Linked DNA regions of Homo sapiens: all the other regions are linked to region 3. The links come from fine-mapping of genetic effects on gene expression. A gene starts in region 3. Each other region holds a variant in brackets. All regions are shown on one strand. Distances are between the middles of the regions. Region 1 overlaps FCHSD2 (FCH and double SH3 domains 2). Region 2 holds the start of STARD10 (StAR related lipid transfer domain containing 10). Region 3 holds the start of ATG16L2 (autophagy related 16 like 2). Region 4 overlaps FCHSD2 (FCH and double SH3 domains 2).

What was found. PIP is the estimated chance that this variant, and not a neighbour inherited with it, causes the effect.
Region 1: its variant is fine-mapped to the expression of ATG16L2 in whole blood (INTERVAL, PIP above 0.99).
Region 2: its variant is fine-mapped to the expression of ATG16L2 in whole blood (INTERVAL, PIP 0.93).
Region 4: its variant is fine-mapped to the expression of ATG16L2 in blood mononuclear cells (TOPMed, PIP 0.96).

Annotation. Positions count from the first base shown.
Region 1 is chr11:73,030,985-73,039,089 of GRCh38, forward strand. All of the region lies in intron 3 of FCHSD2 (FCH and double SH3 domains 2), which reads right to left. Among named protein-coding and RNA genes, the nearest start is that of FCHSD2, 110 kb to the right of the region's middle. The variant GTTTT/G (reference allele first, on the strand shown) is at 4,710.
Region 2 is chr11:72,790,125-72,798,229 of GRCh38, forward strand. It overlaps STARD10 (StAR related lipid transfer domain containing 10), which reads right to left and starts at 3,923. Exons shown (of 7, transcript NM_006645.3): 1 at 2,751-3,923. RefSeq lists enhancers at 2,048-2,547, 3,679-4,248, 8,058-8,105. The variant C/T (reference allele first, on the strand shown) is at 3,746.
Region 3 is chr11:72,809,579-72,817,664 of GRCh38, forward strand. ATG16L2 (autophagy related 16 like 2) reads left to right here and starts at 4,833. Exons shown (of 18, transcript NM_033388.2): 1 at 4,833-4,985; 2 at 7,150-7,249. The coding sequence starts at 4,868. It overlaps LOC107984421 (a long non-coding RNA gene), which reads right to left and starts at 4,489. Exons shown (of 3, transcript XR_007062771.1): 1 at 3,055-4,489. RefSeq lists enhancers at 3,096-3,155, 3,316-3,445, 5,456-5,605 and silencers at 3,986-4,075, 4,476-4,925.
Region 4 is chr11:72,941,433-72,949,537 of GRCh38, forward strand. The region is part of intron 8 of FCHSD2 (FCH and double SH3 domains 2); the gene reads right to left. Among named protein-coding and RNA genes, the nearest start is that of ATG16L2, 130 kb to the left of the region's middle. The variant T/C (reference allele first, on the strand shown) is at 3,073.

The sequences.
Region 1 (8,105 bases), 220 kb after region 3:
ACACACACACATTGACGCACACCTCCAGAAATACTATTCAGCCTTAAAAAAAAGGGAGATCCTGCTATTTGTCACAACATGTATGAATCTGGATGGGTTCATCCAGAATATGTTAAGTGAAATAAGCCAGATAGAAAGAAGACGACTACTATTTGATCTGTTATATATGGAATCTAAAAAAATAAAAAAACTTGAATAAATAGAGAATAAAGGCCGGGCACGGTGGCTCACATCTGTAATTCTAGCACTTTAGGAGGCTGAGGCAGGTGGATTGCTAGAGCCAAGTTTGAGACCAGCCTGGGCAACATAACGAAACCCTGTCTCTATCAAAAATTATAAAAATTAGCCTGGTGTGGTGGTGTGTGCCTGTAGTCCCAGCTACTCGGGAGGCTGAGGTGGGAGGATCACTTGAGGGCGGGAGGTGGAGGCTGCATTGAGTTGTGACTACTGCACTCCAGCCTGGGTGACAGAACAAGACCCTGTCTCCGAAAAAAAAAGAGAGACAGAGAGAGAATAAAGCAGTGGTTACCAGGAACGGGGAGGGAGACAGTAATGCCAACATTTGTACTGGGTGTTACACTTACAAAGTATTTGTATATGCATTATGTTGTTCGATCTTCACTTAAACTGAATGTAGTAAGTATCCTATTAGAATCTGACCAACAAAGGACCATATTAACCAACACTGCTTATACCCAGGAATCCAACCCAAGCCTTCTGACTCCAAGGCCAGTCCACACTCCCGTTATTCTATTTCTCACCATTGATATGAACTGATACATTACAGGTAACCAACACAAATCAGGTAAGAGCTGGCACAGCAGCCTTTTCGCCTGGAAAAGGCATATGCATTGCTTAACAAGTTTTATTAAGTGCTTTCTATAGGGAAGGCACTGTATTAGATGCTGGGGGAATAGCAATAAACATTATGGGTATTATCAATGTTCTTCTGGTATGTATATTCTGCCAGGGATTAATTTAAAAAATTAATATCCACCAAGAGGAACTATTAACTAAATTATGGTCATCAGTATGCTGCAATGTTACACAATTATTAAAGAGAATGTGCTATATAGTCTCAAATATTTAATAAAAATATATAAGCTGCAGAAAAATGAATAGCACGGTCCTATTTTAATTTAAAAAACATGTAAGCATATATACTCTAGAATACATATGAACTTGGAAATGAGGTTCAAAAGTAAGAGCTTTTAGTTTTTATTCTTTATACCACTGGATTGTTCAATGTTTTTTTATTTTAAGAGATGGGGTCTCACTCTGTTGCCCGGGCTGGAGTACAACAGCACAATCATTGTTCACTGCAGCCTCAAATACCTGGGCTTAAGCGATCTTCCCACCTCGGCTTCCCAAGAAACTAATATTACAGGTGTGCATTGCCTGGTTAATTTTTTTAATTTTTTTATAGAGACAGGGTCTCACTTTATTGCCAAGGTTGGTCTCAAACTCCTGGCCTTAAGTGATTCTCCCGACTTGGCATCCCAAGGTGCTAGGATTACAGGTGTGAGCCACCATGCTTGGCCTATTTCTATCACTTAATTGCTCAGTATTTTTAAAGCAAATGTTTATTACCTTCCTAACTGAAAAAAAAAAAGCACAACAAAGAGGAAAAACTCAAGAAGTCACCATTTGGTGTAGGTATTACAACAGGAAAGTATATGGGAACATAAAGCAGAGAGATCGAGTCAGGGAAGGCTTCCCCAAAGGAAATGAAAATTGACATCTAAAAAAAAAGAGCCTGTAACGAGAGGTGGGGTGCAAGTGGGAACATAGCCCCTTCAAGAAACTTCATACAAGCTGGCATGGAGCTTGTAAAAGGGAGAATGGCTTAAAGGTGAGACTGAATAAGTAAGGGCTATATCACACAAGGATTTATGTTTGGACTACCTTAAGACAACAGGAAATCAAGCTTGCGAGCAGTGCAGTGCCATTATCAGACTAAAATGTGATTTAAAAATCATTCTAGCTGCAGTGTGGGAAACATGGATTAAGAGTACTTAGATTGGCCGGGTGCGGTGGCTCACACCTGTAATCCCAGCACTTTGGGGGGCTGAGGCATGCGGATCATGAGGTCAGGAGATCGAGACCATCCTGGCTAACATGGTGAAACCCCGTCTCTACTAAAAATATAAAAAATTAGCTGGGCATGGTGGCGGGCACCTGTAGTTCCAGCTACTCGGGAGGCTGAGGCAGGAGAATGGCATAAACCCGGGAGGCGGAGGTTGCAGTGAGCTGAGATCGCGCCACTGCACTCCAGCCTGGGCAACAGAGCGAGATTCCGACTCAAAAAAAAAAAAAAAGTAGTTAGACTACAGTCAGGGAGACCCATAGGAGGCTACCACTCTAGTCCTGTCCAAAGATGATATGCACAGTATGGAGGCAAAGAGATGTAAATGGGACAAGTTTTAGTGCAAAGAATTTTAGAATTATGAACAGAAGAGACAGAAACAGGTAATCTCTAAGGTCTCCGCTTATAAACATACTCTGACCCCTCACATTTTAGATCTACTAGATGTAGCACAGAAATGGAGGAATTATAGGGCGCTACACAAGACATCTTCCACAAGAATATTCCTCTAACATTAAAAGATATGAAGCAACTACAAGCATATCCACACTCCCAAACCAGGATAAAACTATGTTAATTAAATACTCAAACTATGGAATTCTATACAAATTTATATAATTTATGGTTATTGGCAATAGTAAAAAGACCAGGACTTTGAAGTCAACACTTGAGTTTGAGTACTGTACTGCCTTTGCTGTGAATTAGTTATGAGTATTCTTGGATAAGACACCAAGCTAACTAGGTTAAGTAGGTTTTTTCCCACATCCCAGTTAACAACTAGTATACTGTATTTACCTATTTGATGACGTGACTTGAAGTTGAAACATGATGGTAAACAACGCTTATGACACAGAAACATTCAATAATGTTGTTTTAAAGAAATTTTATTTATCATGTTATTACGAATAGAAATCATGAAAATATAATAGACAATTTTAATACCGATAGCAAATATATCATCTTTTTTTAAGAGTTGCTTTTTTCTTTCTAAAGTTTTTCTTTTTTAAAAAATTATTTTTATTATACTTTAAGTTCTGGGATACATGTGCAGAATGTGGAGGTTTGTTACATATGTATACATGTGCCGTGGTGGTTTGCTGCACCCATCCACCCATCATCTAGGTTTTAAGCCCTACATGCATTAGGTATTTGTCCTAATGCTCTCCCTCCCCTTTAAGGTTTTTCTTTAAATATATTTACAGATACGTTAAAGTGGAATTTTTTAAAAGCCTTTTAAGACCAAGTGCTCACACCTACTTCAAAACATGAAGCTAGAAATTCTCATGTAGCCTGTCTGATTTGACTTTGGTAGCACACAAACATGCAAAAACGTTCCTCTTCCTGAAAGAAGCAATTTCCAGCTGTCTAACCTAAAACACAAATGATTACACACCAGAAACTGTTACTAATGTTAAAATTCGGTACCAGAGGCTGAGCCTGTACCAAGGAAATAGAGATCAAAGTTTCCACTCTTGTGAAAACATCTCAAGTTAGGAACCACATCAATAAAACACAATACTCAGAACTCAGCAAATTTATACTCATAGTAAAGAAAAAGTCAGTCAAAGTAAGCTTTAACTCTTGATACTACATCGCCTACATTGTTGAAGTTTCCCAATTTTTTTCAACTTCAATAAACTTATTTGCACAAAATGACCTGCAAATTTTAAAGTAAAAGTAAATAGAGCATTGCAATTTACTTATTAAGGATCAGGTGAATTTTGACCAGAACTTCGAAGCAGCAAAAGAAAATAAATTATAGAAGGACTAAAAGTCAAAAGAACCAAGACTGTCAATCTGTCTGTCAACAACACAACTGAAAATCCTCTGGGTGCAAAGTAGTACCTTTAAAAAGGTCACTCCACAGGCAGCTAAAGTACTATAGGATAAATGTCACCTGCTGAGTCAGACTCTAGAGGTGGGGCTGAGACACTGATAGTTTAACAAACTTCACAGGTGATTCTGATATGCAGCCACTATTGGGAACAACTAGTATACTGGTTAAGAGCACAGACACACATTCTCAGGTTTAACTCCTGGACCTTGACAAGTTATTTAACTTGTTTTTAGTTTTTATTTTTATGTATGTATGTATGTATGTATGTATGTATGTATGTATGTATGTATGTATGTACGTACTAAGACAAGGTCTCGCTCTGTCACCCAGGTTGGAGCGCAGTGGCGCGATCTTGGCTCACTTGCAACCTCCACACCCACCAGGCTCAAGAGAGTAGCTGGCACTACAGGCACGCACCACTACTCCTGGCTTGTATTTTTTGTAGAGACGGGGGTCTCATCATGTTGCCCGGCTGTTCTCGAACTCCTAAGCTCAAGCAATCCACCCACCTTTGGCCTCCCGAAGTGCTGGGATTACAGGCATGAGCCACTGCGCCTGGCCATTAACTTGTTTTTATCTTGGATGTCCTCATCTCAGAAATAAAGATAGTTATAGTACCTACTTCATTGTTGCTAAGCAAATGAGTCAGTGTTTATAAAGCACTTGGCCCAATGTATGGCATACATTAAGTGCTTAATACCTTCATCTATTCAATAAGTACTTACTGAGAATTTTCTACAATATGCCAAATGCTATTTTAAGTACTGAACAGTACTGAAATGTTCA[GTTTT/G]TATTTATTTATTTATTTATTTATTTATTTATTTATTTATTTGAGATGGAGTCTCGCTCTGTCACCAGGCTGGAGTACAGTGGCGCGATCTTGGCTCACTGCAACCTCTGCCTCCCAGATTCAAGCAATTCTCCTGCCTCAGCCTCCCGAGTAGCTGAGACTACAGGCGTGCACCACCACACCCAGCTAATTTTTGTATTTTTAATAGAGACAGGGTTTCACCATGTTGGCCAAGATGGTCTCAATCTCTTGACCTTGTGATCCGCCTACCTCAGCCTCCCAAAGTGCTGGGATTACAAGCGTGAGCCACCACTCCTCGCCCAGTTTTTATTAATGTTGTTAAAACAAGAATGATCAAATATTTAAGCAAACTTCTTACTTTTAGTTGAAAAAACTAAAGGCTAAGAGTAGACTGGCTTGGACAGGGCTCAAAGTGAACCAGTAGTAAAACTGGGATTAGAACATGGGTCATTTGACTTCCAAGCTTCCCAGTGGAGTTGACCTGTGGGCAGGTTTTAAAGGAAGAAAAATATACAATTAGAAACATTAAAGTATTGGAGCCAACATAATAATTTTGAAATGTGTGAAGGGTAAGAAACAACCAAAGAAGTATAGGAAATAAAAGACAAAAAAAAAAAACCCAAGCTTCATAATCACTATTTTGTACAATATTTCACAACGTTATATCGGTCTTTGGAGTCAAATAAATGTGGGTTCAAATCCAAGCTCTACTATTTATTTATAAATTGACACTGAAAATAATTTCATTAGTCACTTTGAGCTTTAGTTTCCTCAACTGTAAAATGGGCATAATAATGAAACCTAAATTTAATGATGAGTACAATGACTAGCATACTGCAAGTCCCTGATAAATTATAATCATGATTACTGTGATTAAAAACTTTCAATGTCATTATTAAATGTAGAATCAAGTCTATAAATTTTAGTTCTACTTTGGGTATCTTACTGAGTCCAATGAGTAATAGGTAATTTTATTTGTGTATTTATTCATCCGTGTAACAAAGCCTAACTTCTACTATATACAAGGTACTAACATTTCAACCCTCAAGAAGTCTTCCTCCACAAATATTGTGTTCACTCATAATTTTTTCCTCAAACTTTTTATTGATAAAATTTTAAAAACTGAGTACAATTTTCTGTAATACACATATTCTGCTTAATTGAAATTCAAAGTTAGTGTTCCCTACCATCAAAATCCATTACAAACGTTCATCTGTTAACGCGGATCTGTAATTAGATTTTAAATATTTCATCTTTGCAAATGTCTTCACACAGATAGGGACTGCCAAATACTGATATCAATTCAAGAGCATATGACTTTGAGCATATTCATCACCTGGAAGATATTTATAGAATTCTATTATATTCTTCTCTTGATACTCACATTTTTTAAAAATTACAGACTTCATATTTTTTAGAACAGTTTTAGGTTCATGGCAAAATTGAGAGAAAGGTACAGAGAGTTCCCATGTATCACTTGCCCCCACACATGCATAGCCTCCCCATTAACAACATCCCCCACCACAGTGGTACATTTACAATGGATGAACCTACACTGACACATAACACAGTCATCTGAAGTCCATGGTTTACACTAGGATTCTTAGTGCTGTACAGTCTATGTGTCTGGACAAACATATAGTGACATATCCATCATTACAGTATCATAGGGAGTTATTTTCACTGCCCTAAAAATCCCCTGTGCTCTGCTATTTGTCCCTTCCCCTTCATCCTCAACTTCTGGCAACTACTGATCTTTTTACTATCTCATAATTATGCCCAAAATTATTTTTTGCCTCTGAGTTTTTGATAGCAGCCTTTCTCTGGTATAGAATGCATTCTTTCTCCATATCCACACAATATTCTTGTCGTCTTTAGATATTCTAATCCCACTTACCATGTTTTCCTAAAAACTTAGGGCCCATACTGATTATGTTATGAATGTGGCCATTTAATCATATAAGTCAGATATAGCCCTATTGATAGTATATATTTGTAACTTTTATGCATACCTATCTTACTTTGTCAAATGGGTTTTACATTCTGAATATAGGAGTCCTCATTACCTTGTAACCCTCCAAAAGCAATCACACTTGTTATGCATAGAGCAGAACCTCAAACATAGTGGACAACTTTAGGAAAAGAAGAAGGCAGTTCTCTGGGATATCCAGAGCATAACCTTTTATATCCAATCCCTCACCAATTTCACACTAAAGAGTGGGAAACTTATTTTATTTTTATATGAAATATGTGAAACATAGGGATTACTCTGATGAAAAGATTCACCAAGTCAAGCTTTTTCCACAAACAAGTCTTCTGCTAGATGCTAAAATAGTTTTCCAGCTGAAATATTAAAAACAAAACCATCTATCACTAAAAAATTCTTATGACGAGGTGGGAAGATTGCTTGAGGCCAGGAGTTCAAGCCAAGCCTAGGCAACAAGGAGATCTGTCTCTATTAAAAAATTTAAAAATTAACTGGGCGTGGTAGTGCATGCCTCTAGTCTCAACTACTCAGGAGGCTGAAATGGGAAGATCGCTTGAGCCCAGGAGTTTGAAGCTGCAGTGAGCTATGATTGTGCCACTGCACTCCAGCCTGGGTGACAGAGTAAGACCCTGTCTCTTTAAGAAAAAAAAAAAAAAAGGAAAAGAAATTCTGATGACTGATTGATTCTTAAAGGGACCTTATAATTTATCCAGTCGAATCCTCTCAGATCAAGAAAAATGGGCAGTGACTCAAGATCACTCACCACTGATGGGCACCTGTGGTACATATACAGCGTGGATACTATGCAGCCATGAAAAGAATGAAATCTTGTCCTTTGTAGCAACATGAATGTAGCTGGCAACGATTATCCTAAGCAAACTAACACAGAAACAGAAAACCAAATACCACATGTTCTCATATCTAAGTGGGAGCTAAACATTGAATACAAATGGACATAAACATGGGAATAATAAACACTAGGGAATCCAAGAGCAGGGAGTGAGGCAGGGGCAAGGGTTGAAAAAATAATTAGGCATGCTCACTACCTGGGTGATAGATTCATTCATACTCCAAACCTCGGCATCATGCAATATATTTTTGTAACAAACCTGTACATGTATTCCCCTGATTCTAAAATAAAAGTTGAAAAAAAAGATCTGTCACCAAGTAATAAGGCCAATATCCATATAAATTATGACATGCCTCCCACTTTAGTGTTCTTTTTCCAGTACATTTTTTTGGCTTGACTTCTGTAATGACCCCCAGCCTAGTATTCATAATCTTCTATCAAGTTGTATCAACTTAGTATCTTCCAAGTGTATCTCCTTACTTCTTTCTAATATTACTTAAGTCTCCATAATAATTGCAGAATCACTGTTTATTT
Region 2 (8,105 bases), 19 kb before region 3:
TACTCTCCTTCCCTTACCTCTCCATCTTCCCAACCCTCCCTGCAAACCACAGCCCACCCAGGTGGCTACATTGGGAGCTGGCTCCAAGCATGACTATGAGGGTAGTGGGGGGAGGAGAGGTGGAATCAAGCCCTGCCCCCTCCCATGTGGCTGTGGGCAGAGCCCTCACCTGAAGTCAGGAGGCTTGAGTTCTGGACCAGACTCACGCTTACCTCGCCGTGGGGCTCTCAGTGAGTTCTGGCCTCTCTGGGATTCTCTTTCCTCCTCTATAAATAAGGAGTTTGAACCAGACTTCCATTAGGGAAGCTTGAAACAGAGCTAAAGTGAGCACAGGGCCAGGCCTCCAACTACTAACAAGGTGGGCCGGGGGGGTATCTGATGTCAGGCCCTGTCTCCCACCCAGGCGCCCCTCTTCCCCCAGCCCCTGCTCCATGAGGGGAAACGAGGACCAAGAACCTGCTGTTAGCATTCATGGACTTCTGCCATGCAGGGAGGAAGCTCATGCACAACCCCACACCCTGAAAGGGCCAGAAAGAGCCCAGGATCTTGTTCTGGTCTGACTGTCCAGGGCTGTAATGTGTAGCTTTGAGTAAAAACCATCTTCACTCTTGGCCTCAGGTTGTGGGGAAGAGAATCATGTGCATGTGCAGGTGTAAACACTCGAGACATTTCTCCCCTGCCAGCTTCCCAGAACTGGAGGAGGAGATGGGGACATGGGTCCTCCCTTGACTTTCAGAAATGCAGGCACCCAGGGCAGGGTGTGGAGGTATCTAGAGATGGTCAGACCTGGGGCTGCTGCTTCTCTGCCCCTGCATTGACTTTTGGAGAACCCCATCTGCGGCCTGCCTCGACCTGTGTTCACAAGTAACAACAGTGGCTAACAGTTACTGAATGCTTACCACGGGCCTGGTGCTGGTCTATGCACTTAACAGGTCTTAACTCATTTAATTTATAGGTAAACCTTGATAACAGGTCTTAACTCATTTAATTTATAGGTAAACATTGAGACAGTCCCAAGGCTTAGCATCCCCACTTTACAGACAATTTGAGGCTCAGAGAGGGGCAGGGACTCACCTGGGGTCACAGTCTTAAATCACTGGGAGGGCTGGTTAAAAGCCAGGTCTGAGGGCAATCCTGGCTTCTATTTGCTACCCCAAGGTAGTCCTTCTCGGAGTATACATTAGACACTAAATAAATGTTTGATGAAGATGTTTGACTACTGCCATGTAATGGAAAGATCCCTGTCGTAGTCCAGTTCTACCCCAACTCCTTGTGTGTCCTTAATAGAGTCCTTTTCTGGCCGGGCGTGGTGACTCATGCCCATAATCCCAGCACTTTGGGAGGCCGCGAATGGATCACCTGAGGTCAGGAGTTTGAGACCAGCCTGGCCAACATGGTGAAACCGTGTCTCTACTAAAAATACAAAAAATTAGCCAGGCATGGTAGTGGGCACCTGTAATCCCAGCTACTTGGCAGGCTGAGGCAGGAGAATTGCTTAAACCCAGGAGGCGGAGGTTGCAGTGAGCCAAGATCGCACCCTTGCACTCCAGCCTGGGCAACAAGAGTGAAATTCCGTCTCAAAAAAAAAAAAAGAGGTCCTTTTCCTTCTTTAGCCTCAGTTTCTCTGGCTGAAAAACAGAAATGATAAGTGAAGGCCCAGATAATTAAATGCTTGGAGGTGAATCCAAGATCCACCTCCAGATAATTCCATTGAATTATCTTGGATACCTTTTTGTTGTTGTGTTTTGTTTTGTTTTGTTTTGTTTTGAGACGGAGTTTCGTTCTTGTTGCCCAGGCTGGAGTGCAATGGCACCATCTCGGCCCACGACAACCTCCGCCTCCTGGGTTCAAGCGATTCTTCTGCCTCAGCCTCCCGAGTAGCTGGGACTACCGGCATACACCACCACACCTGGCTAATTTTTTTTTTTTTTTTTTTTTTTTTTGAGACAGAGTCTTACTCTGTCAGCCAGGCTGGAGTACAGTGGCGCCATCTCGGCTCACCGCAAGCTCCGTCTCCCGGGTTCACGCCATTCTCCTGCCCCAGCCTCCCGAGTAGCTGGGACTACAGGTGCCCGCCACAACGCCCGGTTAATTTTTTTTTTTGTATTTTTAGTAGAGATGGAGTTTCTCCACTTTGGTCAGGCTGATCTCAACCCCCAACCTCAGGTGATCCGCTCGCCTCAGCCTCCCAAAGTGCTGAGATTACAGGCGTGAGCCACCGTGCCTGGCCTATCTGGGATATCTTGAAGGATCTTGGATTTCTATTTCTACATATACCTGCCTTTCATGACTTGCCTGGGGAGGCCCAATCTGTAATGAGACCTCAGGGTCTCCCAGCCCTTCCCCCAACCTACCCCCAAAACCTCTAAGAGCACTCTAGAGAGAATCAGCTGCATACAGCCCAGCTCCACCGCTCCAAGGGTCAGAGAAAAGTCCCCTTCCCTGGGGTTAGCTGCATGATCCTGCAGGTGCCATGGTGTGCCTAGGTGCCACCTCGCTTCACCTGGCTGGGGAGTGGCTCCTAGACCTCAGCTCAATGCGCATCACTTCCCCTTCTCATCAGCCAGGCCAGCCCAGGTATCACCTCCAGCTCCACTGCCCCCAGATGGAGTTACCTGAGTACCCAATTCCTCCCAAGCTCAGAAACAGTGTCCACTGCCTTCCCACTCCTTTCCATTCAGAGTCTGTCCCCTTAGTGCTGCCCCCTCATCTGTCACACCTGGGTTCTTTCCCTTACTTGGGCCACTGACCTGAGAAGCAGGGTCTGTACAGCTCCAGCAACACTCTCCTCTTCCTCCAGAATTCTCCAGATCCTCCTCAGCTTCTTGGCTCTGGTGCTCATCTCAACACAGCAGGGTCTTCCTCCATCAGGCCAAGGTGGGGGTAGGAGAAGAATTGGGAACAGGGACTCCCCTAGGTTCTCAGGGTACAGTCAGTCAATCTAAGCCTGTATCCAACAAAGACACTGACCCCTGGGGTACAAGGAAGGGCTCCAGGCCCAAAGGCAGGAGGATTAGGCTTTAGCTCTTGCTCACAGCCTGCTGAGACCTGGGGCAAGCCCCTGTCCCTCTTTGGGCCCTCAGGTTTGCAATTTGCAGAATGAGGAAATGGGTTCCTCAATCTACAATCACCTGACTATAATAATATTTTGCCTTTATATACCGCGTGGGTAAATTCCTGAAAGTAAACTAAGCTGTTTTCACCCCTGGATCTCATTTGATCCTCCCAACAGCCTGTTTGCATTTACAAATGAGAAAGCTCAGTTCCCTAAGGGAACAAAATTACCCAAAGTCACACAGCAAGCTGGAAGCAGAGCCTGGGTGCAGTCCTTGAATCCTGATCCTTCCCTGGTCCTTTACTCTCTATGATGCTGGAAATCTGCCTGACTTCCTCTAACCTGTTGTCCCATTTGTAAAAGGACTGTTGTGAGGACTGAATTAGGAGAGGCGATGAAGAGGGTCATTCCTTGTGAATCATAAAAGAAAGGACCACAGAACGATGACTGGACCGTTAGGTTACTATTTATTACGGTTATCTTCGCTCAGGCGCCCCCACGTGTCGATCCCGAGACTCTCGGCTTGCGCAGGCGCTCTTTGGTGTTTACAGCGGCCGCGAAGCCCCGCGTTTGCGCGTGCGCTTCCCGCCCGGGACCGCCCAGAGGTCCCGGACTAGGGGCGGACTAGGGGCCGCTCTGCCTCCCGCCCCCTAGTGGTTGTGGCCGCTCTGTCACCACGGCTCCCGGGGC[C/T]TCTGTCGGCTCCACTTTGGTTGAGACGTCTCCACAGCCCAACAACGGCGGCGATCTGAGGAGAGGCAGGAGAAAATACGGCGCGCTCGGCATCGTCCTTCTGACCGGGGACTCCAGCATCTCAGTCATCGCGTCACCAAGCCCCACGTGCAGGTTCTGGCATCCATCATGGCAAACTGGAGACCGCGGTGAATTCCACCGGAATGGCGCGCGCATTGCCACATGGGAACTGTAGTTCTTGGCTAGGACCTTTCTGGGGCTGGGCCGCTGGAAAAACTACATTTCTCAGGAGCTCAAGAGTCAGGCTGACAGAAAGGGGGCCCGCGGCATGTTGGGAGATGGAGTTTGGGGGGTTCGTGCTAGCAGGGAAACAGTGAAGCAATGGAGCCAAGTGTTCTGAGCCTGGGCCTGTGGGTTTGAGTTGGGCAGGAGTTACACAGTAGCTCTTATAAGAGAGGAGTAGCATTGTTGCGGCTTTTAGAAAGAATGCTACTTATTAGTTGTGTGATCTGAGCGATCAAGACAAATGCCCCTTTATCTTTTTTATTTATTTATTTTTTGAGACAGGGTCTCTGTCTGTCAGGCTGGAGTGCAGTGGCCCCAGAACTGCTGGCCTCCCGCCTCACCCTCCCAAAGTGCTGGGATTATAGGCGTGAGCCATCAGGCCTGGCCAGATGCCTTTTTATCAACTACGATGGACCTTAAGGTTAAGGTTAAGGAAACAAACGTTGCCTACCTCAGGGCTCAGCTGTCAGCTGGCATGGCAACTTCTTAAATTTCTACTGCTGCCAGAAAAACCACACTCTTACTAAACCCCTAGCAATAGGAGCTATCATGCAAATTGTCAGACTCTTCTTTACTGAGATTTACAACTCAGACCACTACAACGCTGATCGACAGAGGACAGGCCTTACAAACATTCTTTCCTGATAAGTAACTGCAGACCTCAGGCCAGTTTCAGCAAGCTCATAGAGACTGCACGCAAACTGTGTTTGTGTCCTATAGTCCACCTTATGATGCAAAGAACCAAATTCCACCTCACTTTAACGCAAAAACCCCATCCCAAAGTGAACATGGAACATATGTTACAGGTGTTTACCCATTGTGCATGCACTCACATCCCCTCATAAATATGTATAGCTTTTCCCCAAAACCTGCTGAATATGTATGATTATTGTGAAATACAGACCCTGTGAGTCATAAACCAGCCTAGGCCGGGAGTGGTGGCTCACGCCTGTAATCCCAGCACTTTGGGAGGCCAAGACGGGCGGATCACGAGGTCAGAAGATTGAGACCATCCTGGCTAACATGGTGAAACCCCGTCTCTACTAAAAATACAAAAAAATTAGCTGGGTGTGGTGGCGGGCGCCTGTAGTCCCAGCTACTCGGGAGGCTGAGGCAGGAGAATGGCATGAACCTGGGAGGTGGAGGTTGCAGTGAGCCGAGATCGCACCACTGCATTCCAGCCTGGGCGACTGAGCGAGACTCCGTCTCAAAAAACAAAAACAAAAAACAACCAGCCTGCCTTTTCCCTATACAAAGAGAGAGCACCTTTGGTACCTACAGGAGAGTGTCTCTTTTCAGTTTGCAAACTGATGTCGCTAATGAAACTGCCCTCTACTATTTAGGCATCCTGGTGTTCTAGAGGGTAGCAGTCTGCACCTCTCACAGGGCTTCCTCTTCCATCACTCCTCAGAGACTGTATTCACAGGGGTCACCTGTGTGTGAGATGCAGTTTGTCTTTTTTGGGGGGAGGGCAGGGGCTGTTCGTTTGTGGTTTTTTTTTTGTTTTTTGTTTTTTTTTTTGAGACGGAGACTTGCTCTGTCATCTAGGCTGGAGTGCAGTGGCATGATCTGGGGCTCACTGCCAGCTCCGCCTCCCGGGTTCATGCCATTCTCCTGCCTCAGCCTCCTGAGTAGCTGGGTCTACAGGCACCCGCCACCACGCCGGGCTAATTTTTTTTTTTGTATTTTTTTAGTAGAGATGGGGTTTCACCGTGTTAGCCAGGATGGTCTCGATCTCCTGACCGTGTGATCCGCCCACCTCGGCCTCCCAAAGTGCTGGGATTACAGGTGTGAGCCACTGTGCCCGGCCTTGTTTTTGTTTTTTTGAGACAGGGTCTCATTCTGTCACCCAGGCTGGAGGCAAGACCATTGTTCACTGCAGCCTGGACCTCCTGGGCTCAATCTATTCTCCCACCTCAACCTCCTGAGTAGCTGTGTTTATAGGCACACACCACTACACCTGGCTAATTTTTTTTTAATTCTCACTTTAATTATGTTTTGCCTTTTTTTTTTTTTTTTTTAGATGGAGTCTTATTCTGTCACCCTGGCTGGAGTGCAGTGGCTCACTGCAACGATCTTGGCTCACTGCAACCTCCGCCTGCCAGGTTCAAGGGATTCTTCTACTTCAGCCTCCCAAGTAGCTGAGATTACAGGCGCACACCAACACGCCCAGCTAATTTTTTTTTTTTTTTTGAGAAGGAGTCTTGCTCTGTCGCTCAGGCTGGAGTGCAGTGTCGTGATCTTGGCTCACTGCAACCTCTGCCTCCTGGGTTCAAGAGATTCTCCCGCCTCAGCCTCCTGAGTAGCTGGGATTACAGGTGCTCACCACCATGCCCAGCAATTTTTTTTTTTGTATTTTTTTAGAGACGAGGTTTCACGCTGTTGGTCAGGCTGGTCACGAACTCCCGATCTCATGATCCACCCACCTCGGCCTCCCAAAGTGCTGGGATTACAGGCGTGAGCCATCATGCCTGGCCTAATTTTTGTATTTTTAGTAGAGATGGGGTTTCACCATGGTGGCCAGGCTGGTCTCAAACTCCTGACCTCAGGTGATCCCCCTGCCTTGGCCTCCCAAAGTGCTGGAATTGCAGGTGTGAGCCACCGCGCCCAGCCTAATTTTTTGTGATTTTTGTAGAGACAGGGTTACGCCATGTTGCCCAGGCTGGTCTCAAACTCTTGAGTTCAAGGGATCCTCCTGCCTTGCCTCCCAAAGTGCTGGGATTACAGGCGTGAACCACCCCACCTGGTCTCAAACTCCTCTTTGGAAAAAAAGTATGGGCCACAGATTCTACTGTGGCTGTTGTCTCTTTCCCAGGTTTGTCCTCAACCATGGTAAAATAAATCTCTAAACTGATAGAGACCTGTCTCAGGTACTTTTTGGTTTACAAAATTGTATTAATAGGCCGGGTGCAGTGGCTCACGCTTGTAATCCCAACACTTTCAGAGGCCAAGGCATGGGGATCACTCGAGGCCAGGAGTTCGAGACCAGCCTGGCCAACATGGCGAAAACTTGTCTCTACCAAAAATACAAAAATTAGTCAGGCATGGTGGTGCACACCTGTAATCCCAGCTACTTAGGAGGCTGAGGCAGGAGAATCGCTTGAGCCTGGGAGGTGGAGGTTGCAGTGAGCCGAGATTGTGCCACTGCACTCTGCACTCTGGCCTGGGCAACAGAGTGAGACTCTGTCTCAAAAAAAAAAACAATTTTTTAAAAATTATATGAATAAGAATGAGGCCGGGTGCTGTGGCTCATGCCTGTAATCCCAGCACTTTGGGGAGGCTGAGATGGGCAGGTCACTCGAGGTCAGGAGTTCGAGACCAGCCTGGCCAACATAGCGAAACCCTGTCTCTACTAAAAATACAAAAATTAGCTGGGCATGGTGACACGTGCCTATAGTCCCAGCTACTCGAGGCTGAGGCAGGAGAACTGCTTGAACCCGGGAGACAGAGGTTGCAGTGAGCTGAGATCATGCCACTGTACTCCAGCCTTGGTGACAGAGTGAAACTCCAGCTCAAAAAAAAAAAAAAAAAAGAAAAAGAAAAAGAAAAACACTTGCTTGGAAGATCTAAGTCACTAAATAGACAGGGTTTATAATGCAGGTACAGAGATCCAGGTAAGGAAGTTTTGAACACAATATTCTACATCTATCTTATTTTTTCCAAAGAAACAGGACTGTAGGTCCTGTGGCAGTCCAGAACTGATGCCAGCCCCTTTATACACAGTTCTGCTTTGCTTTGAGCCTATCAAAATATTGCTTCATTTAAATTTCACCTCATCTCCACCCCCTCCCAAACCCTGTAAAACTATCTTCCTTTGTGCTTAGTGGGACACTCCTTGGTTTCTCCAGTGTGCTGTCTGTCTCATTACAAGGGGACAAGAAACCTGACTTCATCAAACCATGGGTTTGTTCCTTGGTGGTCTTGGCTGATTGGGCTAGGACAGCCTGAAATACTGGTGTCCTCCAGGTCTGCCACAGACCCTCTCTTTACTCTGCACACTTTTTTGGGATGACCTCATTCACTTCCATCCATATGCTTATAGCCCCCAAACCTCCAGCTCAGGCCTTCTTCCTGC
Region 3 (8,086 bases):
TTAGAAATCACTGTACTGCCAGGTGCGGTGGCTCACGCCTGTAATCCTAGCACTTTGGGAGGCTGAGGCGAGCAGATTGCCTGAGCTCAGGAGTTTGAGACCAGCCTGGGCAACGTGGTGAAACCCTGTCTCTACTAAAATACAAAAAATTAGCCAGGTGTGGCAGCGTGTGCCTGTAGTCCCAGCTACTCGGGAGGCTGAGGCAGGAGAATTGCTTGAATCTGGGAGGCGGAGGTTGCAGTGAGCCCAGATTGCCAAGATCATGCCACTGCACTCCAGACTGGGAGACAGAGCGAGACTCCATCTCTGGAAGAAAAAAAAAAAAAAAGAAATCACTGTAACCACAGACCAGCCTGTCCTATCCTGATCAATATGAAGGTGTGAGGCAAACAGGCTCACTTTTGTACTATTTCAATTCTTTGCTATGTGCATGTGATTGGTTTTCCAATTTAAAAAATAGCTACTTTTTTTTTTTTTAAACTGAGTCTTGCTCTTTCGCCCAGGCTGGAGTGCAATGGCACGATCTCAGCTCACTGCCACTTCTGCCTCCCAGGTTCAAGTGATTCTCCCCGCTCAGCCTCCCAAGCAGCTAGGATTATAGGCACCTGCCACCACTCCCGGCTAATTTTTGTATTTTTAGTAGAGACGTGGTTTCACTATGTCGGCCAGGCTGGTCTCGAACTCCTGACTTCAGGTGATCCACCGCCTCGGACTCCCAAAGTGCTGGGATTACAGGCGTGAGCCACTATACCCAGCCAAAAAATAGCTACATTTTTTATTTCAAAACTTCTAAGCACTGGACCATGCAAACTTTGGTTTTTTCTTTTTGATACACAGCAACAGCAATTTATTTACGGATTACCTACTCAGTTGGTGCCAAGCCTGGTTCTAGATGCTGAAGACAGAGCCTAGATCAAGATTGACTTGGTCCTGGCTTTCCTGAAGTTCCCAGCCTGGTAGAAGAGACATAATAAACAACTAGCAAACACAGAAATGTGATTCTTTCTGGGAGTATTAGGTGCTCTGAAAGGAAGAACAAGGGTGATGTGATAGACGCTGATTGGGATGGGAGCTTTTTCAGATTGGATGACAGGAAAGGTCTTCTGAAATCTGCCTGGTATGTAGGAGCTAGCCTCTAAAAGTTGTGGAGGAAGAGCACTAGGAGAGGGGTGCAGCCAGGGCAAAGCCTCCAAGGTGGGGCTAAGCTTGGCAGTGGGATTTCAGTGCAGTGAATAAGGCTAAAGAGTAGGAAGAGGTAAGATCAGTGATGTGGGCAGGGGCCAGATCAAGCAGGGCCTTGAAGGCCATGGTAAAGGGTTTGGTATTTGCTTTGACTATGCTGGAGAGCCTTTCAAGGGTTTTAAGCAAGAGGAACTTGAGATGACTTAAGATTTTTGTTTTTGTTTTTGAGACAGTCTTGTTCTGTTGCTCAGGCTGGAGTGCAGTGGCGCAATCTTGGCTCACTGAAACCTCTGCTTCCTGGGTTCAAGTGATTCTCCTGCCTCAGCCTCCCAAGTAGCTGGGATTACAGGCGTGCGCCACCATGCCTGGATAATTTTTGTATTTTTAGTAGAGACGGGGTTTCTCCATGTTGGTCAGGCTGGTCTCAAAGTCCCGACCTCAGGTGATCTGCCCACCGTGGCCTCCCAAAGTGCTGGGATTACAGGTGTGAGACACCGTGCCTGGCCTGATTTAAGTTTTTGAACAATCACTCTGGCTTCTGGGAGATGCCTAACCCAGGTGCACTTTTTTTTTTTTTTTTTTTTTTTTTTTTGAGATGGAGTCTCGCTCTGTCACCAGGCTGGAGTGCAGTGGTGCGATCTCAGCTCATTGCAACCTCTGCCTCCCGGATTCAAGCAATTCTCTGCCTTAGCCTCCTGAGTAGTTGGGATTACAGACGCCCACCACCAAGCCTGGCTTTTTTTTGGGTATTTTTAGTAGAGATGGGGTTTCACTATGCTGGCCAGGCTGGTCTTGAACTCCTGACCTTGTGATCCACCTGCCTTGGCCTCCCAAAGTGCTGGGATTACAGGTGTGAGCCACCGTGTCTGGCCTCCCAGGTGCAAATTTTAAATTACATTTTAAGTACTTTAGGGCCAGGTGCAGTAGCTCATGCCTGTAATGCTAGCACTTGGGATGCCAAGGCAGGAGGATTGCTTGAGCCCAGGAATTAGAGACCAGCCTGGGCAACATAGTGAGACCTTGTCTTTACAAGAAAAATTTAAAATGAGCTGGGCGGCTGGGCACGGTGACTCACACCTGTAGTCCCAGCACTTTGGGAGGCTTGAGGCGGGTGGATCACTTGAGGTCAGGAGCTGGAGATCAGCCTGGCCAACATGGTGAAACCCTGTCTCTACTAAAAGTACAAAAATTAGCTGGGTGTGGTGACGCATGCCTGTAATCCCACCTATTCGGAAGGCGGATGCATGAGAATCGCTTGAACCCGGGAGGAGGCGGTTGCAATGAACCGAGATTGTGCCACTGCACTCCAGCCTGGGTAACAGAGACTCTGTCTCAAAAAACAAAACAAAACAAAACAACAACAAAACCAGCGATAGTGGCATGTGCCTGTAGTCTCAGCTACTCGGGAGACTGAGGTGGAAGAATCATTTAATCCCAGGAGGATGAGGCTGCAGTGAGCCATGATTGGGCCACTGCACTCCAGCCTGGGCAACAGAGAGAGACCCTGTCTCAAAAACAAAACAGAACAAAAAAAGTGAAGTACTTTAGGTCCCCAGATTATGGTATAACATTTTTTTATATTTATTGGTCAAATCATATATCTCTTACATAAATAATTTGAGATACATTAAACAGCAAGTTAAATGTAAAAAGCAGAAATTTGTCTCCATATATTATCTAAAATTTTATTTCAAGTGATCTTTATAATACAATCTTTCATATTCTAAAAATAGAACATGAATATTTTTAGTCAAAATCAATCACTTCTTTATCATATACTACTCAAAAATGACTATTTATTTAACATTTCCTAGGTGTATTTTGTGAGTCAAAAAAGGATTAGGAAACCCCTGCCCCAATATGGCTCCTTACCTGAGAGAAACGGCATCTCTGCACCTCACAGCCAGGCCAAGCCCTGTTAATATACTCTCCCATGCACACAGCCAGAGTTCCTTATTTATATAGTGTCTCCAAGCACCCAAGAGTCCGCCAGTTCTAAAGGGAATTCATCACTGTCATCAGCTGGCCCTGGGTCTCCATGGGTACTGTGCCTGTCTCCTGGGCATGGCTTTTGCTGAACGTTACCACCCATCTTCAACACAAATACTCCTTCAAGAGACAGGTCAGGCCTGGTTTGGGGCTAGAGGTACAGAGACATCTAGGACCCAGGTCCTGCCCTAAGGGGCACCGCACAGATTACAGGATGGTGTGATAACTGGTGACGGTTATAACTCGAACTCAACTGGGGCTGGTGTCTGAGAAGCTTGAACTCAGTGTAGGGGCAGGAAAGTTCTCCTGGAGGAGGTGATGCATGATTAGGAGCCAGGCCCCCTAGAGGCGACGATGTTCCAAACATCAGGCTCGGCCTGTGCAAAGGCCATGGGCGTCTAAGACAATGACATGTGGGGGACTGAGCCCAGCTCACTGGAAGCAGAGCAGGCTACACTGACCTGGGGGCGTCTAGGCCTTCACTGCTTTCTACGTCCTCTGACCCATCCCCATCAGAATCTCAACAGACTCGTCACCTCCAGGGCCTGCACTGCTCTCCCATCGTTGCCCAACTTCTCTCGTTCCCTAGGGATGTTCAAGTCTGCCAACACTCAGAGGGCAGGGCCTGCTGGCATGCCCCAGGGTGAGGCTGTGCCCAGCGAGTCCCTCCTTTCGTGTCTCACAGTAGCCTGAGCCTGCAGAGCTGGCTCTCTAGCATCTAGCTAGAGACGGTTTGACCACAGTTCCCTGCGACCCATGATTCACTTTCGAGGGTACCCACAAGAGATGTGTCTGCTCCTCCAGACGCCGCCCAATGGGGTGAAGCGTCTGGCCCTGAGTCAGGATGCTGGGGTGCTGGCCGTCTCAGCTACCCACTCCTTTGCAACCCCAGGCAAGCAAGCTCGTTCTCTCCTCCCGGCCAGGGGCTTTCTAGATGAAATCAGCTGCACCCCTTTACTCTCAGGGACCTAAAATTTCGGCGACCATGTGGAGCCGTAAACCCTTCTGCCTCCTGTCCTCCCAGCCCCGCACCCACCTGGCGTTTTCGTGTCACGGAACCTCTGCACGTGCTCTTCTCGAGGCCTAGAGTCCCTCTCTCCCTCTGGCCAACTCCTATTTCATCCCTCACAGACCCAACTCGAACGCCATCATCCCCGGAAAGCGGGGATTCCTCCCTTCAGTCTCTGCTTCCTTATCTTGCTGTCCTGCTGCGCCGCGCCCTCAGTGTACGCGCAGAGCCCGGGGCTGAGGGCCTCTGGGTCCCTGGCTGGGTGCGCGGCCAGGAGCGCGACGGCCTGGGAAGCACCAGCGGCTCTCGAACTCGGCCCGGGCGCGGCGGGGTTAAGACACCCGGGCCTTGAGGGCCCCGCCTCCGGAGCGCTCCACCCGCGTGGGGGAAGCCTCCCCGGAGGCTCCGACCTCGCTCCTGCTTATGACCCTCGCAGCCACAGGAGCCCCCACTTAGGTGAACATTTCGGACGGGGCCCCGGCGGTTCAGACCCGGAGGCGGCTCCTCCCGGAGGCAGATCCTCCCGGCGTCGGCCTTCGGTCCTCCCCGCCAAAGCCCTCTTGGGACAAGCCGGGGATTCCCCGCCGCCGCCCGCCCCCTGGCGTCACGGAGTCCCCGCGAGGCCCCGCCCCGGCCTGGCGCCGTCCTGGGCGGGAGGAACGCGCCGCTAGGCGGGAGAGCGCGGCCATGGCGGGGCCGGGCGTCCCCGGTGCCCCCGCAGCGCGCTGGAAACGCCACATCGTGCGGCAGCTGCGGCTTCGGGACCGTACGCAAAAGGCGCTTTTCCTGGAGCTGGTGCCGGCCTGTGAGTGCGCCCCGGTGCTGAGAGGATGGCGGCTGAGGGGACGCGGCTACGGGCGCGGGGAGAGGGTTTGGCTGGCTCCTCCGCCTGTGACCCGAGTGCGCTGTGCCTTATGCCTTGAGCCTGTGCGTTACGCCCATCCCGACTGCCAGGACTCCGCCCCTTGCCATCCAGGCTCTGGTTAGAACCTGGACGAGCCCCTCCTGGTCCCCCTGCCCTCGTCGCCCCTCAGGACGGGCTCTGCCTCCCACAAGCTGGGCTTCCGAGACGCAAGTGCGTCCTCGGGTGTTGGTTTTGCAGGGTCTCTTTTGCCTCCCCACCCGGGCAGTCCCCGGGGTAGGGGCTTGATCAGTGCACTTAGTCTCGGTAGCGCAGTGAAAGAACGCGGGACTTGTCCAGAGCAGCCACTTATTGGCCCATCCGGAGAGGGGCGACACTCGGAACCTCTAAGGAGGAGGCTGTGCATCTCAGGCTCTGCCGCTGACAGGCGACGCTGGCACAGGCTTATGGAACACCTCCCTGTCAGCCTACCCAGCCTGAGGGGGCATCAGGGGGCCCCGGGCTGCTGGTGGATGCTGGCTGAGCCCAGCGAAGTCGGACTCTCAGAATTGTTTCTGGGCAGCTGGTCAGGATAGGGTGTGGCATTTCAAGAGGGGATGAACAGGTGTGCCTGTGTGTCGCACCTCTGGCCGCCTGCGATTGTATGTCTGTGGTTGGAAGTCTAACCACAATCCCTGCGGCTCTCTCACTGGGGCTAATCTTGGCCAAACCCCCACAATCAAATCTGCTCTTAGCCAGGAAAATTTCTCTGCAAGCTTCCAGGCTGCTGGTCCTCTACCTTCAGGGTTGCGAGGCCAGCCCCCACCTCCAGCAGCCACACTTCTCCACTGCTCAGACAGACAGTGGAACCGTCCAGTTTGAGGGAGGGGGTCACCGCCCCCCCAACCCCTGCCCCCCGCCCCGACCCAGGGAGCTGTGAGTCTGAGGGACTAGAGAGATCTGGAGGGCTGAAATCAGACTGAAGGGCCAGTCTTGAAACCTTGGGCAGATCACATCGCTAAGCCTCAGTCTTCTTACTTGTTAATTGGGTATAGAGACCTTCTTTAGGTTTGCTGGGTGCTGCAGTACCCTGGGGGCTGAGGTGGGGTTTTCATGAGAACTAGGCCAGGCCCAGGGCCTCAGTCAAGGTGACAGGGCACTGAGTGTGGGAAGGAAGTTGATGAGGAGGGAGCTAGGCCCGGACTTACCACCCCACCCTCCCCTGGAACTGGTGAGAAAAGAGGAAGTGACTGTTGATGGGGGAGGGTGTTCCAGGGTCAAACCACCAACCTCCAGAATGTCGGCTGGATAATTGCTCAAGGACTTTCTATTCTGGCCTGGGGGTACCTTACACCAGGGCTGGGGAAGTTGGGATTATTTATTTATTTATTTATTTGAGATGGAGTCTTTGCTCTGTTGCCCAGGCTGGAGTGCAGTGGTGTGATCTCCGCTCACTGCAAGCTCTGCCTCCCAAGTTCACGCCTGTCTCCCGTCTCAGCCTCCCGAGTAGCTGGGACTACAGGCGCCTGCCACCACGCCTGGCTAATTTTTTGTATTTTTTAGTAGAGATGGGGGTTTCACCGTGTTAGCCAGGATGGTCTCGATCTCCTGACCTCGTGATCCGCCCGCCTCGGCCTCCCAGAGCGCTGGGAATTCAGGTGTGAGCCACCGCGCCCGGCTGGGGATTATTTTTAAGTGCAGAAAGCTAGAGCCCTTGGAGGGGAAGTGACTTGCCAAAGGCCATTGACAGGTAGAGCTCGGTTTATTTCATCACTTTCTGGGGCTAAGCCTTGCTCTGAGGCAGGGATGAATCAATCCCAGGCCCCTTCCTTCCCTCAGGACCCTCAGCGGGCAGTACCCCGCAGTGGTCATCCTTCTGTCCCTGGGAGAGCAGGTCCTCTTCCACGTGGGCCTGGGGACCGGTGCTATGAGGACACTGCTAGGGCTGAAGGTCCTGTAGAACTGCACAGATGCCCCTCAGGCACAGGGCAGAGGCCAGCCTGCCAGAAGCTTCCCCATCCCTAGCATCTCTGGGCTCCTTCAGCCCTTTTAGCCGGAGATAAATTGCATGCCAGGGGGCTGCTGGGTATCTGTCTCTGCCCCAGGCTCACTCTCTTGCACTCTCCAGATAACCATCTCTTAGAGAAGGCTGAGCTGCTGGACAAGTTCTCAAAGAAGCTGCAGCCGGAGCCAAACAGTGTCACTCCCACCACCCACCAGGGCCCCTGGTAAGTGTATGTGGGTCCGTGGTCACAAAGGGCTGCCTGTGCTGGGGCCCTGCCCCTGCTGCCTGTGCTGGGTTCATTCTCTCCCTAGTGCCTCATCAGCCCTTGGCTGCTGCCCAGGGGTGGTGGGGGTGGTGGAGGTGGTGGGGGTGGTGGGGGAGGCAGGCCCTTGGCCTTCCCACAGGACAGCTGTTTAGAATCTCTTTCCCCTCCACCTTTCTTTGTCCATCTCTCTGCATTTGTCCCATCTCCTTCCCGTCCCACCCCTATACTTATGTCTTTTCCCTTTCTCAGTCTTTTTCCATTTCCCTGTTCCTTGCCTGATGCCTAAAGAAAGGGTCTTGCTACCTGTTGCAAAGAGGGAGTAAAGATGAGAACCAGGAATAGGTTGGGGCTCAGAGTTGGGAGGTGCTTTGCTTTTTTTTTTTTGAGACGGAGTCTGGCTCTGTCACCCAGGCTGGAGTGCAGTGGCGTGATCTCAGCTCACTGCAACCTCTGCCTCCTGGGTTCAAGCAATTCTCCTGCCTCAGCCTCCTGGAACGTGCACCACCACCCCCGGCTAATATTTGTATTTTTAGTAGAGACGGGGTTTCACCATGTTGGCCAGGATGGTCTCGATCTCTTGATCTTGTGATCCTTCCACCTCGGCCTCCCAAAGTGCTGGGATCACAGGTGTGAGCCACCACGCCTGACTGGGAGGTGCTTCTTGAGAAGGGTCCTTGGCCAAGGCCTAGGGGAATCTTAGAGCAGAGGAGTCATGGACAGCTCATTTCTAGAGACTTGCCTTTTCCTTTACTGGCTTGCTGGCTTCCATCTTCCCAGGACGAAGTTAATGGCTCT
Region 4 (8,105 bases), 130 kb after region 3:
TATGTTGGATGTCAGTTTGCTTAGTATAAAATATAGACTCCCAACTCTATTAATATATTACTTATTATTACTTTATCATTAACTGTTTTGTTCTTGTATTGATCTATTTTTTCTTTTAACTCATCACTGGTCAGAAGAGTTGTTTAAACAACATGAAATAAAAATGTTCAATTTGTTAGTAAGCAAAAAATTAAAAATTAAGATTTCTTTACCTTCATCCAGATTGTTGCTCATATATGTACGTTTGTTTAAATATAAAATACAGTTTTGACAAGGGTGCAAGGATAGGCACTTTCATACACTGCTTTCAGAAGTATATACTGATATAATCTTTTCAGAGGGCAATCAGCTAGCCAAATGAAAAGTATTAACCAATCTTTGTTTTTGACCAGGGAATGTAGCTTCAAAAAAAGATATCTTAAGGAAGTTATCAAAGAGGTGTATTAAGATTGTAAAAAAGAACCTTCACTAAAAAGCATTAAAAAAGTTTATAAAAGCATAAAAAAGTAATAAAGTTAATGGCATATTAATATGATCAAATACTATGCAGTCATTAAAATCACATTTTCAAGTAACATGTAAAGGCAGTGATACAGTTTGAATGTTTTGTCCCCTCAAAATCTCATGTCGAAATGTGATCTCCAATGTTGGAGGTGGGCCTAGCAGGGGGTGTCTGTGTCATGGCAGCAGATCCCTCATGAATGACTTGCTGCTGTCCTCACAGTAATGAGAGCGTTCTCACTCTATAAGTTCACACTAGAGCTGGCTGTTTAAAAGAGCCTGGCAGCTCCCTCCTCTCTTGCTCCATCTCTCACCATATGACATGCAGGCTTCCACTTTGCCTTCTGCCATGATTGTAAGTTTCCTGAGGCCTCACCAGAAGCAGATGCCAGCAGCATGCTCCCTGTACAGTCTGCAGGACTGTGAGCCAAAATAAACCTCTTTTCTTTATATTACCCAGCCTTGTGTATTTCTTTAAACCAATGTAAATGGGCTAACACAGGCAGGAATAGCTCAGAATGTATTTTATGTGAAAAAATAAAAGGACTTACGTGTATAACAATTTTGAAACATGTATATGTAATACATGCCTAGGAAAGATTAGAAGGATATGCCAAGATGACAGTAAGAGTGGTTTACTGTTACAATGTGAAGTTATTTTAATTTATCTTTAGGTTTTCTGTACTTTTCAAATTTTCTTCTGGTACTTTGGTAATCAAATGGAAAATACATACTTTATTAAAATTAAAAAGTATTGACAAACATGCTATAGAATGTTATGGTATATGCTATGCTATTCATTTTATTTTATTTTTATTATGGCTCTCCTAGAGGATGTGAAGTCATATCTCACTGTTTTGTTTTTAGACACAGGGTCTCGCTCTATCACCCAGGCTGGAGTGCAGTGGTATGATCATAGTTCGCAGCTTCAAACTCTTGGACTTCAGAATCCTCCCACCTCAGGCTTCCAAGTAGTTAGGACTACAGGTGCATACTTCCCAAAGTGCTGGGATTATAGGTGTGAGCCACCATGCCTGGCTAAATCACAAATTCATTAATACTGACTTTTTCTTTTGAGACAGAGTTTTGCTCTTGTTGCTCACGCTGGAGTGCAATGGTGCGATCTTGGCTCACTACAACCTCCGCCTCCCGGGTTCAAGTGATTCTCCTTCCTTGGCCTCCTGAGTAGCTAGGATTACAGGCGCGTGCCACCATGCCCAGCTAATTTTTTGTATTTTTATTAGAAATGGGGTTTCCCCATGTTAGCCAGGCTGGTCTCGAACTCCTGACCTCATGTGATCTGCCCACCTCTACCTCCCAAAGTGCTGGGATTACAGGCATGACCTACTTTGCCCAGCCCTGACTTTTATATTTACTATCTACATTTAACACTTACTTCAACTTCAACCTACTTAATTCAACTATAGTTAGGATTAACTGAGGACTACTGAATAGAATTCCAAGATGTCTGATGGAGAGGTTTGAGTAGGAAAGGATTAGTGAGACACTGAATCAGGAAAAAGACAGCACAGAACAATATGGATTATGGGAAAACAGTAAATGTGAACTTCATATTACCTTGGTTATTTATTAATAGCTTTAATGAAAGGGAAGGAAATTGAAGAGAATGACAGGTGAGACGGAGATGAAGGGCACAGAAATGGAAGTGAGAATTCCCTGGGTCAGTCTATTTGACTTTTGAACATATATGTTTCAGTGTTTTACATATTTAAAATATAAAATTATATTGGCTGTTTTGTTCACTGAGGCACTCAGAATGATACCTCACACTTAGTATTTATTCAAGAAATACTTGCTGAATAAGATACATAAACATTGTATTTTGATATTTTATTAGTTCATTAACTACAAGAAGTTTCAGTTAGCACATCTATAATTAAATATTTGTTCTAAGGCATGTTCAAATATTGTAAACTACTACACTAAGAACGTATGAAGATAAACTGACTATTAAATACTCAGACTTTAATCATTATTCATTGTGATGCTGCCAACTTTAACTTCTATTGCATGACATGGAGGTAAAACAACACAATTACTTCTAAAACTATTCCAATGAATAGAAAAAGAGGGAATCCTCCCTAACTCATTTTATGAGGCCAGCATCATCCTGATACCAAAGCCTGGCAGAGACACAACAAAAAAAGAGAATTTTAAAACAATATCCCTGATGAACATCGATGCAAAAATCCTCAATAAAATACTGGCAAACTGAATCGAGCAGCACATCAAAAAGCTTATCCACCATGATCAAGTGGGCTTCATCCCTGGGATGCAAGGCTGGTTCAACATACTCAAATCAATAAACATAATCCAGCATATAAACAGAACCAACGACAAAAACCATATGATTATCTCAATAGATGCAGAAAAGGCCTTTGACAAAATTCAACAACGCTTCATTCTAAAAACTCTCAATAAATTAGGTATTGATGGGACGTATCTCAAAATAATAAGAACTATCTATGACAAACTCACAGCCAATATCATACTGAATGGGCAAAAACTGGAAGCATTCCCTTTGAAAACTGGCACAAGACAGGGATGCCC[T/C]CTCTCACCACTCCTATTCAACATAGTGTTGGAAGTTCTGGCCAGGGCAATCAGGCAGGAGAAGGAAATAAAGAGTATTTAATTAGGAAAAGAGGAAGTCAAATTGTCCCTGTTTGTAGATGACATGATTGTATATCTAGAAAACCCCATTGTCTCAGCTCAAAATCTCCTTAAGCTGATAGGCAACTTCAGCAAAGTCTCAGGATACAAAATCGATGTGCAAAAATCACAAGCATTCTTATATACCAATAACAGACAAACAGAGAGCCAAATCATGAGTGAACTCCCATTCACGACTGCCTCAAAGAGAATAAAATACCTAGGAATCCAACTTACAAGGGATGTGAAGGACCTCTTCAAGGAGAACTACAAACCACTGCTCAATGAAATAAAAAAGGATACAAACAAATGGAAGAACATTCCATGCTCACGGGTAGGAAGAATCAATATCGTGAAAATGGCCATACTGCCCAAGGTAAATTATAGATTCAATGCCATCCTCATCAAGCTACCAATGACTTTCTCACAGAATTGGAAAAAACTACTTTAAAATTCATATGGGACCAAAAAAGAGCCTGCATTGCCAAGTCAATCCTAAGCCAAAAGAACAAAGCTGGAGGCATCACACTACCTGACTTCAAACTATACTACAAGGCTACAGTAACCAAACAGCATGGTACTGGTACCAAAACAGAGATATAGACCAATGGAACAGAACAGAGCCCTCAGAAATAATGCCGCATATCTACAACTATCTGATCTTTGACAAACCTGACAAAAACAAGAAATGGGGAAACGATTCCCTATTTAATAAATGGTGCTGGGAATACTGGCTAGCCATATGTAGAAAGCTGAAACTGGATCCCTTCCTTACACCTTATACAAAAATTAATTCAAGATGGGTTAAAGACTTAAATGTTAGATCTAAAACCATAAAAACCCTAGAATAAAAGCTAGGCAATACCATTCAGGACATAGGCATGGGCAAGGACTTCATGTCTAAAACACCAAAAGCAATGGCAACAAAAGCCAAAATTGACAAATGGGATCTAATTAAACTAAAGAGCTTCTGCACAGCAAAAGGAACTACCATCAGAGTGAACAGGCAACCTACAGAATGGGAGAATATTTTTGCAATCTACTCATCTGACAAAGGGCTAATATCTAGAATCTACAATGAACTCAAACAAATTTACAAGAAAAAAACAACCCCATCAAAAAGTGGGCAAAGGATATGAACAGACACTTCTCAAAAGAAGACATTTATGCAGCCAAACGATACATGAAAAAATGCTCATCATCAATGGACATCAGAGAAATGCAAATCAAAACCACAATGAGATACCATCTCACACCAGTTAGAATGGCGATCATTAGAAAGTCAGGAAACAACTGGTGCTGGAGGGGATGTGGAGAAATAGGAACACTTTTACACTGTTGGTGGGACTGTAAACTAGTTCAACCATTGTGGAAGTCAGTGTGGCGATTCCTCAGGGATCTAGAACTAGAAATACCATTTGACCCAGCCATTCCATTACCGAGTATATACTCAAAGGATTATAAATCATGCTGCTATAAAGACACATGCATACATATGTTTATTGTGGCACTATTCAAAATAGGAAAGACTTGGAACCAACCCAAATGTCCAACAATGATAGACTGGATTAAGAAAATGTGGCACATATACACCATGGAATACTATGCAGCCATAAAAAATGATGAGTTCATGTCCTTTGTAAGGACATGGATGAAGCTGGAAACCATCATTCTCAGCAGACTATCGCAAGGACAAAAAACCAAACACCACATGTTCTCACTCATAGGTGGGAATTGAACAATGAGAACACATGGACATAGGAAGGGGAACATCACACACCAGGGCCTGTTGTGGGGTGGGGGAGGGGGGAGGGATAGCATTTGGAGATATACCTAATGTTAAATGATGAGTTACTGGGTGCAGCACACCAACATGGCACATGTATACATATGTAACTAACCTGCACGTTGTGCACACGTACCCTAAAACTTAAAGTATAATTTAAAAAAAACTAGACAATTACATGGTCAATAATTACAATGCTCAAAATGTCAATACCTGCCAATATCCTCTAATGCAAGTCTGTAAAATAGGTATTGTGGAAGTATCTAGCATATTTTACCTTTAAAATACGATGGTATAAACAGAGTAATAGCTACCATTTACAGAATATCTATTATATTCTAGGAGCTTTGTGCAGTAACTCTACTTTTTACAACCACCTTTAAGGTAGACAACATTTTCATTTTACAGAGCAGGAAACTGAGTCCCAAGATGTTAAGTATAATGCCTAGGGAAATTTTTCAAGCTTAAGTAAACATTCATATTCACAAGACTACTCACAAGGATGTAGGACAAAAATGACTGCCTGCCAACAAGGCAGCACCAGGTGCCCCTCTTTGTGGGACTAGTCTTTGCAGCCATCTATGCAATAGCTCACCCAGCTACCCAAGAGCTATTCTCCTTGTGTCCCAGCCTGCTTTCCCAGGCCCCAGGTGAGATTCAGGTCCAAGAAAATGAGACTCACATCACTGGGTCTGGGAGTCACTCTGGTTTAACAGCTGCATGCCCCATGGGGCCAACATCTCTTAACAACAATGCTGTAGGTACGAAGCATTTTCCAATATATCTTATTTCTTAGTTAAGGGCTTTAAACCAAGTGGAAGACCTAGGTTTTATGTTCAAATTTATTTAAACTTCCCCTGGGTAAGAAATGCTGTGTGTCACAAGAGAAGTTTGAACTCTTCTTATCCAGACTCACACTCAGGCCCACATCTGGCCAAGAGGAGCAGAACTGAAGAGGTTTTCCCACAACAATGGTTGATCTACAAAAATCCACTTATGCTCTCCCATGTAGTGTCCCCTCTGACTTGTGATACACACTTACAAGTTGTCTGACTAGAACTAAAGCCAAAGTCAGTGTTTACTTGACTCACATAGGAATTGACCACAAGATCTTATTCTAAGCAATGAACTAATCAACCAGAGTCACTGAGTCTAGCAAGAAATGGGTATATTATAATGAAAGATTAATAGCCACACCACTATATTGCTGGTCCTAATGGACGTGTAGGAACTCCCATCCTCCAGCACATTCTGTTGGAACAGCCCTTACTTTAAATCTCCCAAAAGTTAGTTCATAGATTTCTGATTATAAATTACAGTGTGATAAAATCATTAGTTAAAAAAAATATTGAAAACATAATTTTCTCATAAAGAAAATTAAATACAGAAAAATCCAAAGAAAACAAAAATCACAGGTAATCTCACATAAATATGGGAACATTAACTTATAAAACAGACTTTAAAAACAAATTCAAGACTATATTTTACATATTATTTATGATTCTCATTTTAATCAGTTAATACAGTGTTAACATTTTTCATGGCACTATAATGGTATAATCTTATACAACATAATTTTTATGACATCGTTTGGGTATCATACATTTTTTGTTTGTCTGTTTTGTTTTGTTTTTTTGAGACAAAGTCTCACTCTGTCACCCAGGCTGGAGTGCAGTGGTGCGATCTCGGCTCACTGCAACCTCCACCTCTGGGTTTCAAGTAATTCTTCTGTCTCAGCCTCCTGAGTAGCTGGGATTACAGGCATGTGCCACCAGACCTGGCAAATTTTTGTATTTTTAGTAGAGATGGGGTTTTGCCATGTTGGCCAGGCTGGTCTTGAACTCCTGGACTCAAGCAATCCACCCACCTCAGCCTCCCAAAATGCTGGGATTACAAGCGTGAGCCACTGTGCCCAGCCACTGGATATCATAAATTATTGGCTGCTTATTATGAAACATTTCAATTACTTCAAAATTACTGAATGTTTCATTTTTCAACATTTTAGTTGCTTTCCATTTTTAATCTCATTGTCATCATCAAGCATGTAGACAAATATCATAATAGATATTTATTATATCCTTAGAATAAATTCTTACAACATAATTTCTGAGACAAAGAATATAGTTTATTTTAAAGCATTTGATACATATTACCAATTAAGTCCTCCAAAACAACTGTATCAATTTACATTATCAATAATAGAATATGAGTGTATTAACAAAATTTTAACTTACCATTTTAATGGATACAATTAAGATTAACATTGTCATAATTTTCATTTCTTTTTTTTTTTTGAGAGGCAGTCTCGCTCTGTCGCCCAGGCTGGAGTGCAGTGGCACAATCTCGGCTCACTGCAAGCTCCATCTCCCAGGTTCACAACATTCTCCTGCCTCAGTCTCCCGAGTAGCTGGGACTACAGGTGCCCGCCACTACGCCTGGCTAATTTTTTATATTTTTAGTAGAGATGGGGTTTCACCACGTTAGCTAGGATGGTCTGGATCTCCTGACCTCGTGATCTGCCCACCTCGGCCTCCCAAAGTGCTGGGATTACAGGCATGAGCCACAGCACCCAGCATAATTTTCATTTCTTTGATTACTGGTGGGATGCTAGATTTTCACAGTCACTAGTCTTATTTTTTATTGAGATATTAGTCACACACCATTAAGTTAATCATTTTAAAGTATACAATGCAGTGGCTTTTAGTATATTCACAAAGTTGTGCAACCATCACCATTACCTAATTCCAGAACATTTTTATCACCACAAAAAGAAACCTGGCCGGGCGTGGTGGCTCACGCCTGTAATCCCAGCACTTTGGGAGGCCCATGGCGGGCAGATCACCTGAGGTCAGGAGTTCAAGGCCAGCCTGACCAACATGGTGAAACCCTGTCTCTACTAAAAACACAAAAATTAGCTGGGCGTGGTGGTGGGTGCCTGTAATCACAGCTACTCAGGAGGCTGAGACAGGAGAATCACTTGAACCCTGGAGGCAGAGGTTACAGTGAGCCGAGATCATGCCACTGCACTCTAGCCTGGGCACCAAAGAGCAAAACTCCATCTCAAAGAAAGAAAGAAAAGAAAAGAAAGGAAAGAAAAAGAAAAGAAAAGAAAAGAAAAGAAAACTTTATAGCCATTAAGTAGTCAGTG